Homo sapiens: one gene and its partners. The protein of the gene in region 1 purifies or fractionates together with the protein of each later gene. This does not show direct contact. Each region holds a gene or a part of one and is shown in the gene's direction. Other genes may lie near its edges.

Evidence for each region. Proteins that work in one complex are often made in the same cells at the same time.
Region 2: the proteins of ZNF483 (region 1) and TRIM24 purify together in Homo sapiens (affinity purification with mass spectrometry; 2 studies listed by BioGRID and IntAct, with this or other methods). This does not show direct contact.
Region 3: the proteins of ZNF483 (region 1) and LYAR purify together in Homo sapiens (affinity purification with mass spectrometry; one large-scale study listed by BioGRID and IntAct). This does not show direct contact.

The regions. Positions count from the first base shown.
Region 1 is NC_000009.12:111,552,548-111,555,917, forward strand, and holds the end of ZNF483 (zinc finger protein 483), read left to right. Parts: 3' UTR 1-2,870; downstream 2,871-3,370. UniProt on the Homo sapiens protein: May be involved in transcriptional regulation.
Region 2 is NC_000007.14:138,571,759-138,575,258, forward strand, and holds part of TRIM24 (transcription intermediary factor 1-alpha), read left to right. Parts: intron 1-1,748; coding exon 1,749-1,884; intron 1,885-3,500. UniProt on the Homo sapiens protein: Transcriptional coactivator that interacts with numerous nuclear receptors and coactivators and modulates the transcription of target genes.
Region 3 is NC_000004.12:4,280,155-4,283,654, reverse strand, and holds part of LYAR (cell growth-regulating nucleolar protein), read left to right. Parts: coding exon 1-34; intron 35-1,757; coding exon 1,758-1,872; intron 1,873-3,500. UniProt on the Homo sapiens protein: Plays a role in the maintenance of the appropriate processing of 47S/45S pre-rRNA to 32S/30S pre-rRNAs and their subsequent processing to produce 18S and 28S rRNAs. Also acts at the level of transcription regulation.

The DNA.
Region 1 (3,370 bases):
GTCTCTAACTGAAATTCTTTGACAGATGGAAGATTGTCAAAAATATCTGCCATGAGTTTGAGCCTTTAGGCAATGAATTCACATTTCATTGCCTTTACATGAATCGACATTGTAAATTTGGAGGTTCTTTGAGACAGAATATACCCAGAGTTTTCTTTGGGCAGTGTCTTGTATCAAACAGTTCATCTAAGGCTAAAGAAAAATACTTGAAATTTTTCAAGATTTGAATTAATTGGTCTTTATTATTAAAATATAAATATTCTATTAGCAAAAATATATTCTGTTCATGTATATCCAAGAGCAAAATTGTTTAATGGTTTCATTGACGTTTTCAGTTTTCATGAATGTCTTTTAAGGTCTTTTCCTCATAATTTTCTAAATACGATAAAGTGATAATTTCTTCATCTCTCCATCTAAGGTTCTTTGTAGATGCATGTGTAAGAAGCTATTTTATAGCTTGCCAGGTTTACAAACTCAGACCCTTTTAAAAGTTGTTTAAATTGTTTTGTTAGAAATTTCACTCGCAGTTCATATGAGTAATTTTGTGTATTCTTTTTTGACTTACACTCACTAAATGGTTGCTAAAAATTACATGTCTTAAATATTGTCTTAAGTATTATCTACTATGTATCTTTAACACTTTTGAATAGAACAAACAGCTTTTCCATTTTGCTCTGCTGCAGTAAATTGCAATTGCCATTCATCATTAAATGTGCACTATACTGTCTCTAGTCTTCTTGACTATGCCAGTTGTAGTACCAGCTTCTGTATCTGCACTGAATTCTGCCTCAGTAATATGCCTTTGTTTAAAATTTAAATATTTTTTCATTTTTTTAACCTAGAAAATAATTATAATGAAAATATTAAGTATCTCATTTTAGGATTCTGATTTACATAGGTATCACTGTAACTTGTGCTGTTTGCATAGGTATACTCTATCTTGTGCTATCTGCATAAAATATCCAAGTAAACACATTGTGATTTTACATCCGTGCATAGAAAAAAAAATCATCTGAACTCAAATCAATCTGTTGATACTGACTAGATTGGTGACGTGTTTATGTGTAACACTAGTGATAATGCACGTTCCTGTACAAGCATTATAATACAACAGTGTCCTATGCAATGCAGTGGTTAAAGTGAATTGTAGTTCTATCAAAATAAAGATACGTTTAGTGGAAAAGTATTTGACTCTGCTTCTGTTTTTAAAATTGTGAAATGTGGCACTGTGTGGATTTCCATTTCTCACTAGCCTCAAGTGACTACCATATTAAGTTGCTCTACGCAATCCTAGCCACAGAGAACCCAACAAATTGGAGTAGCTTAACTGAATGAAAGTTTATTCCCCAGGGGTCTTTCCAGCATTTTGTTGCTTTCCCATATTTTGTAGTCATGCTGTGTGGAGCACATAACTTCCAACGTCCCAGAGGCAGGGAAAGGAAGAACTGGAGCATTGTGCAGTGTTTTTAAGCACTAGCCTAGAAACAGCTGAGAACCACAGGTTTCAAACTCGGTGCCAAGGTTTCCCATTCCACTCTAGAGATCTCACACAGGCTTCCCAGGATATTTTAAAATCTGGAGATTATCACAACTACAACTATTGACATCACAAACTACTACTATTATGTTATTGGAACTAACTACTTAGCAAATGGAATTGATAGTTAATGGGTTTTTTGTTTGTTTGCCTGGGAGCATTGTGGAAAAATGGCCATGGTACTACAGATCCTGTAACTAAGAAAGTCAACCTCTGTCTTAGAAGTCACTTCTACTCTTCCGTTGCCCAGAGATCAATCATATAACCCTAACCTAACTTAAAGGGAGGCTTGAAATACAGCTTTCCCCTCATTGTGGTGAGCACATAGATTATTTCTACCACAGTCTGTTCTTTCGGTCACCAAACTCTTTCTTCCCACACTTAATGCATACAGTAGCCCCCTTATCCATGGGGGATATGCTCCAAGACCTCGAGTGGATGCCTGCAACCTCAGATAGTACCAAACCCTGTATGTTCTATGTTTTGTCAGTCTGATAACCCAAGAAGGCTACTAAGTGACTAACAGACAGGTAGTGTAGATGACATGGATATGCTGGACAAAGGGATAATTTGTGTCCTAGGAGGCACGGAGCAGGATGGCAAGAGGTTTCATCAGGCTACTCAGAACATACTGGAATTTTTTATTTCTGGAATTTTCTATTTAAAATTTTGGGGCCAAGATTGAGGGTAACTGAAACCACGGAAAGTGAAACTTTGAATAAGGGGAGACCACTGTATTTTACCCAAGGGAGACAATCCAAAGTCTAATCTGCTCAGGGTCTACAACTGAAGTCCAGGGTCTTTGAGTTAGATGCTTTGAGTGTGACCTACTTTTTGCCTTTGGGACCCTAAATGTCAGTGCCTGTTAATTTTTCTTTGAGAAGTGTAATTTCTCCAGAGGTCTGCTCTTTAATTTCCCCAGAGAAGGATGTTCTAGTCAGCATGGGGGATATAAGCCTGGCTACCATTACTGGCGAGCAGGCAGAGGCACGCCACATGGTGGGATAGGAGTTGGAGTTCATCCCCTTTTATTCAGACTTCCACTTAGTATCCTGTTTTTAGTCTTCTATCTTATTTCCATCCTCCTCCAGGCCCAGGGTACCCAAGTTAATAGCCTATCAAGTTCTATTTGGCAAAAGATAATGCCTCTCATTTCCTGTGGGAATTGTGGTGAATTGATAATCACCTGGCAAAATAAGGTAGGAGTGGCATTTTGAGCTCAAACTGTTCTGTGCACATTTTCAAACTCTTTAGCCTCTGATTTTCTCCCTACTTCCAGAAAACCTGATGCCTCCACCTCCTAAATCTTTCCATATTTCATTAGTACCCCATCAGAAGGCCGTTGTGCTATTTTCTACTGTGCTCTGTTAATAAAATTTTTCCTCTAAACAATATGTGTATTAGTCTGTTCTCACACTGCTATAAGGAACTACCTGAGACTGGGTAATTTATGAAGAAAAGAGGCTTAACTGACTCACAGTTCCGCAGGCTATACAGGAAGCATGGCTGGGAGGCCTCAGGAACTTACAGTCATGGCAGAAGGGCAAAGGGGAAGCAAGCACATCTTCACATGGCAGCAGGGGAGAGCAAAAAGGGGGAAGTGCTACACACTTCTAAACAACCAGATCTCATGAGAACTCACTATCATGAGAACAACAGGAGGGAAATCTGCCACCATGATCCCATCACCTCCCACCAGGTCCCTCCTGCAGCATTGTGGATTATAGTTCAACAGATTTGGGTGGGGACACAGAGCCAAACTATATCATTCCACCCTGGTCCCTCGCAAATCTCATGTCCTTTCTCACATTTCAAAGCTAATCATGCCTTCCC
Region 2 (3,500 bases), on another chromosome or scaffold:
GGGAGACGCCCTATGTTACCCAGGCTGGTCTTGAACTCCTGGGCTGAAGGGATCCTCCTGCCTTGGCCTCCTAAAGTGCTGGGATTACAGGCATGAGCCACTACACCCAGCCAGTATGACTATTCCAAAGGCAGAAAGTCTGCATTCTGTAGACAGATCTCCATATATAAGTTGATTCTGTGTTTGATCCTTTTTTTAATCTAAAGTTAGATAACCTACTGTCGTGCACATATACATACGCACCTAATGTTAAGAAGCTTTTAGGAAATATCTTGTACTCTTTACTTGGATCAAATTACCTATAAGATTGTGAAAATAACTTTTTTATTTTCATTATTTGTTTTTCAAGTTGAGATCAATTAATATTTCCTAATAGTTGCATTGTTAATCTTACCAGAGTCATTCCATTTTTAAAATAGTTTTGTATACTTTAAATGAGTAGAATACATATATTTTCTCATGCATGGATGGTTCATAGGAAAACTTACATCTAATCCCCATAGTTTTATTTGGCTTTTAGGATTATCCCACAAAGTAAACAACTTTCCTTGTATTAAGTTCTCATGAATTTAGTCATTCTAGTACTTTTTGTACTCTTTGAAAAATATTGGCCAAGTATTGCCAAAAGAATATTAAAACAAAAATGACCCTGTATATTAACCACCTGGCCCGATTTCCCTGCCCCCGAACCCACAGAAAGTAAAATTCTTTCTGCTTTTTCCTCTGCAGTCCTCATACAGGTGAACCTTTTTCCACCAGGCTTTCTTACCTGAAATTCCTCTTAGGAATTACAGAATAAGCTGAAATGAGTGACTGTTTTCTCATTCCTCCCAAAGGTGCTTCATAACTAGTACCATTCTAGGTGCATAAGCAAGAAATTGATTCATTATATACAAACTGTGCCCTATGGCTGTAGGACTTAATTATCTTATAGAATCCTGGTTGAACAAGAGTAGAACTATGTTAAAGAATTGAACTGGATTTTAAGCCCAAAGACATTGGTGGGAAATTTGGTATATGTAGGCATGAAAGAATTTTTGTGTCTAAAGTATTAAACTCTTACTCATTAGGGATTTGTAAATATTTTTGCCTGGCAATGAATAAGGAAAAGAAGTGTTATTTGTATTCCTGTTATATTAAAGCAAGAATCTTTAGGGTTCACCTTTTCTCCTACAAAACAACAGTAATGTATTCAGTGAGGTTAGTGCTGTAGATATATGGACTTCGTCTATTTAGCACATACCCAGAGTATCAGTTGTTAAAGTATCCCTTTCAGAGGATCCACTAGGTCCTATCTATCTGTGTGAGGCTAGATTTTCTTCATATTTTTCAAGCAAAACCATATACCACAATAGATTGAATGCTGTTTAGGGAGACATTAAAGAGATTCGCAAGAAATGTAAAATTGTGATAGTCTTCTCACCAAGTTTATGTTTTTCATATGGCAAGCTTTTGTCGTTTATAAGAATTTTTTCAATTTTTAAGAGTGTGAATGACATGATATTCCTTTTGACTCCTGTTTTTGAAATAGCGTCCTCAATATTTTACTAAGGTGAAACACTAAGATAGTGAAAACCTTTATTCAAGGTTGTTTATGGGGAAAATATCTGTTAGAACTTCTCAAATGTGGTATCTATGTTTTGTTATTCGATAATAATTATTAAGTTATTGAAGCTTTCTTATAAATTTAAAAGTAGCTTTTAACTTGCAAAATCAGAATGCCCTGAAATAATTTCTTTTCTTGTAAGATTGACTGTTCAAGTACTATTATGCTGGACAATATTGTGAGGAAAGATACTAATATAGATCATGGCCAGCCAAGACCACCCTCAAACAGAACGGTCCAGTCACCAAATTCATCAGTGCCATCTCCAGGCCTTGCAGGTAAAGTGGGCTTCTTTTGATTTTTGTGAAAGTTTTTCTAGTTTTCACTTTACTTGGAATAAAAAATTACCCCTCTTCTCCTTTTTTGTTGAATGCTTAATCTGAGTTTTTCACTATTTAAAATTAGTATGCTTTCAGAGAAAACAAAGGTTAAATTTCTTTATCCTTTCTTTCTTTTGAGTCACAGTCTCGCTCTGTTGCCAGGCTAGAGTGCAGTGGTGCGATCATAGCTCACTGCAGACTCACTCCTGAGCTCAAGCGATCTCCCACCTCAGCCTCCTGAGTAGCTGGGACTGTAAGTATGCTGCTCTACCAAACGTGGCTAATATTTTTTGGTAGAGACAGTCTTGAACTTCTGGCCTTAAGCAATCCTTTCTGCCTTAGCCTCCCAAAGCTTTGGGATTACAGGCATGAGCCATCATACTAGGCCTTCTTTACCTTTTCAATTTCAACAGAACTTCTCACCATTATAGTACTTCCAGGGGGAAATTGGTGTTATATTCTTTCTTGTTGATAAGTTGCCTGTGATGTGGTCTTTAAGATGTAATTTGCCTAGGGTCAAAATGTATTAGTGACAATAAGTAGCAATCACTCTTCTGGTGATTTGTTTGGTGTTTAATTGTGTTTGTGAATCTTGACATACCTACTCATTTCCTCTGAGAGAAAAACGCTAATATTACTTCTGAGGACGTAGGTACCTTAAACCAAAATATGAAAAGAGAATTTAAGTCACTCAACAGTCACATGAACACAATTTAAATGGGGATGCCCGTTTTAAACAAACTTATGACAAAATATAGCAGAGAAACTGTTTATCATATGACAAGTTTATACAAATAAGGAACACATGTGGTATTGCCAAAGGACATGATAAGTAGATAATTCCCTAAAGAGGAAATACATTTATCCAATATAGCAGATGAGACAAAAATTCATTCTTACTAGTGGTCATAAGAAAAATCAAACAAGATAGAATTTCTAAGTTACTGAATTAGCTAAGACTTAAATAATAAAAATAGTCATTGAGAATGTGATGAGAGGTACTCTCATACATAGGTGGAAGGGGTATGAGTTGGCAAAACATTCCTGGAAACCATCATAGCAATATTACTAAAGTTTACATTTATCCAATATTGTACTGTGGGCAAAGTACCTTATATGTATTACCTAGTAGGATATTTGCTTCAAGGGGCTTGGAAAATGTATGTACCCTTGAACCTAGTAATTTCCATTTTAATATGCCAATTATAAGGAAATAATTAGGAACTGGATAGGCAGATCGTATTTATTAATATTTATATTACTATTAAGGCATTATTTGCAGTAGTTAAAATTTTGAAGCAGTGCCCAAATATGAGGATAAAAATAAATTAGAATGTGCTCACTTGTAAACAGATTATTTACCTATTCAGACAATGCTTATGTAGAGTTTTTAATGGCATGCTCATGGACTACTGTTTAGTGAAAACAAGTATACAGAACCATATAAAAGATGTAAAAGTATGTTTAAAACTGGAAAGAGATATATCAATCAACCTTAGCAGTGTTTATATATGGATGGAGAAGTTATGGGCTACTTAAATGTTATATATTTTTATAGTTTTCAACTATTCTAA
Region 3 (3,500 bases), on another chromosome or scaffold:
GCCTTTCTTGCATTGACTGCGGTAAAGATTTCTGGTAAGCTTCACAGAATTCATGTAGATCCATAGTAAATCCAGATCAGTTTTGGAAGCCTTGGCGCCACAAAGCTTGGAAAAATAGTGGCAAATTTGAAGAATGAAATTAAGACTAAAAACTGGTATGTTCCATTGATTAAAACTGGTGTGATTCTTTCAAATGTGCTTTACTAGGCCGGGCGCAGTGGCTCAGGCCTGTAATCCCAGCACTTTGGGAGGCCAAGGTGGGTGGCTCATGAGGTCAGGAGTTGAAGACCAGCCTGGCCAACATAGTGAAACCCTGTCTCTACTAAAAATACAAAAATTAGTCAGGCGTGGTGGTGGGCGCCTGTAATCCCAGCTACTCGGGAGGCTGAGGCAGGAGAATCGCTTGAACCCAGGAGGCAGAGGTTGCGGTGAGCCGAGATTTCACCACTGCACTCCAGCCTGGGCAACAGAGCAAGTTAACCCCTTCTTGGGGGGGAGAAATGTGCTTTACGAAACAATTTGCTTTTTGAGGATATGTTAAAGAAAAGACTAGGGGAAGGGGAATTATGATGATTAGAGTGTTCAGTCAGTTGGTGACACTGGTTGCTATTGCATTGCCACTGTTTACAGACCCAGGGAACTAACTGCGTGGAAGATGGCTCCAGGGGTTTAGAGCCAGTTTCATTAGACCATGGGTATCACATGCCCATCACAGTGGAGAGATGGACTTATGAACCAGAAAGTGAATTTATGAGCTCACAGTGGGGCAGATGACTGGTAGCAGAGGAAACTATGTCCTCCCTAGAAAATCAGAGGTGCTGGTGGAAGTGAGGCTCTTCCTGGCCCCACGGGTGTGTCAGGAGACACTTCCACTGAGGAGGCCTCTGTGAATGTGAGGAGTTAGCGGGGAGGGACAGGACAGATCCTGCCTTAGACACCGGTTCTTCAGGTGGGTCGTTTGCAGAGGGCTCCCCTCTTGAATTTCATGTTGATTCCCCTTCAGCCTCAGAAGGTCCAGGCGAGAAGCTGGCTTCTGGCTGCATCTGCCCCAGTGTCCTCTGAGGCATTCGGATGGTACTGGCTAATACTCTCTTTTAATTCATTCTGGAGCAGTGATTTTTTTTGGAAACTGCTAACCTCTGTTCAGACGTAATCCTAGGAGGAAGCTTGATATATAAAGTAGGTTAAAATTGAGTTTTCATTAGGGGACTTTGCCCTGGACCTTGTCCCCAACATTTCCCTGAAGAACCCCATAGAGCTTTACAAAGATTATATGAGAGAGAATTTAGTTTTCTTTTTTCTCAGGACCCTAAGGGATCCAGAACTGTTGGTAACCTCATGCTGCCATTTTATATCTGTTTTTGATTTATTCTACAACTAATTATTGACTGTCTATTAGACATTGAGATTTTTATAATTTAAAAAAACTACCCTATTGCATAGAACTATTTTCTTGTTTATTCAGTATATGTACACTTATGACTTAAAAAAATACTGCCTATCAATTTAGCTTAAGGTGTTTATAAAAATGGGGGAAAAGTTTGGTGATGGGTTTTATATTGACGACTTTGGAGGAAGGGGGATGTGGTTCTGACCAGGAGGCTGTAAACATAATAAGTGAAATAGATGGGGTGCTTGTGTGATAGACACATGTGAAAATATACAGTGTAGACCACAGAAGATAGTGGCAGCATGCTGGTATTAGCGCCTCCAACTTGGGTATCAGTCTAATGGCAGAACTTTTGATCACTTTAAAGGGGCGATGACTATAAAAACCACGTGAAATGCATAAGTGAAGATCAGAAGTATGGTGGCAAAGGCTATGAAGGTAAAACCCACAAAGGCGACATCAAACAGCAGGCGTGGATTCAGGTAACGTCTCTCTAACTCATTGAGTAGCTTCCTCTGACAGCTTCCGCTTTCTTTGGAAGCCCAAGAGACTAAGAGTAAATGTGTCATCCCTGCAGACAAGCTCTGGAAACCTCATGTCCTAGGATAGACAGGTTGAACTAAAACCTCTTGAAAAAGAATTCTTTGGCTGGGCATGGTGGCTCACGCCTGTAATCCCAGCACTTTGGGAGGCCAAGGCAGGCGAGTCACGAGGTCAGGAGTTCAAGACCTGCCTAGACAACGTGGTGAAACCCCATCTCTACTAAAAATACAAAAAATTAGCCGGGCATAGTGGCGGGTGCCTGTAATCCCAGCTACTCAGGAGGCTGAGGCAGGAGAATCGCTTGAAGCCAGGAGGCAGAGGTTGCAGTGAGCCGAGGTTGTACTGGGTGACAGAGTGAGACTCCGTCTCAAAAAAAAAGAAAAAGAAAAGAAAGAAAAAAAGTTCTTTATTCTTCTAGCTGTTAAAACAGTTGCGGTGCATTATACCTTTAATCCATGTGTTTTGTTAATTTCTTGAAAAAAAAGTTTTAGAATTCTCATTAGCTTTCCCTTGGCTGTAAAACTAAATGGAAGCTTCTAATCTCTCCCTGCTTCTAGTGATAATGGAGCTTTTATAACTCAAGCCATGTTAATCTGTCACATCTGCCAGTCATTAGAATTAGGCAAAATAAAGATACTTTCGTCAATGCAGAGAATTTTCTACTTAACTAAAACAGCATGAAAACATGCACAGTAGAAATGGCAGAAACATTGACTCCCTAATTCACTGGGAAGTATAACTCTCAGAATGCTACTGATCATTTACAGAATAGGTAGCAGGAGGAAGGATTCAGAAAGGAAGGTGGGATAATGAAAAGACGGATGTCATCTATTGAAAATTCTGTGTTTTTCTAAAAACCAATAAAAAGTAATCGTTCCATTTGATAATAGAGTTGGAACGTGAATTTTTCAGACATTAACTAGCTTACTGAATGAGCATACTACTGGGAGGGTATTTCTGTTCACAAAGGACTTACTAGAGCAGATTGAGAAGCTAATGAAATCCTGTTTGCACTGGTGACCAGCAGCCACACTTTTGAGCACTCTCTGTAATTCTCTAAAAACCAGATGACGTTCCTAGACCCTAAGGTTGAGGTGCATGGGTCTGTGAGTTCCGTCTCTGCTGCTGTCACACTCGATGAAATCCTCTGAAGCAGGGGTCAGCAAACTACAGAAACTTATTACAGCTTTGTAATAAGTTTTGAAATCAGAAAATATGAGATCTGCATTTTTGTTGTTCTTTTCAAGATTGTTTTGGCTATTTGGTATCTTTTGAGATTCCCTGTGAGTTTTAGGATGGATTTTTCTGTTTCTGTAAAAACGTATATATACACACACATTGGATTTTGATAGGAATTGTATTGAATCTGTAGATTGCTTGGGTAGTATTAACATCTTAACAACTTTAAGTCTCCCAGTCCATGAGTACGGAATGTTTTTCATTTATTTGTGTCTACTTTAATTTCTTTCAGCAGTGTTTTTTGGTTTTCAGTAAACAAGTCTTTTGCCTCTTCAGTTAAGTTTATTCCTGATTATTCTTTTTGATGCTGTTGCAAATGGAATTGTTT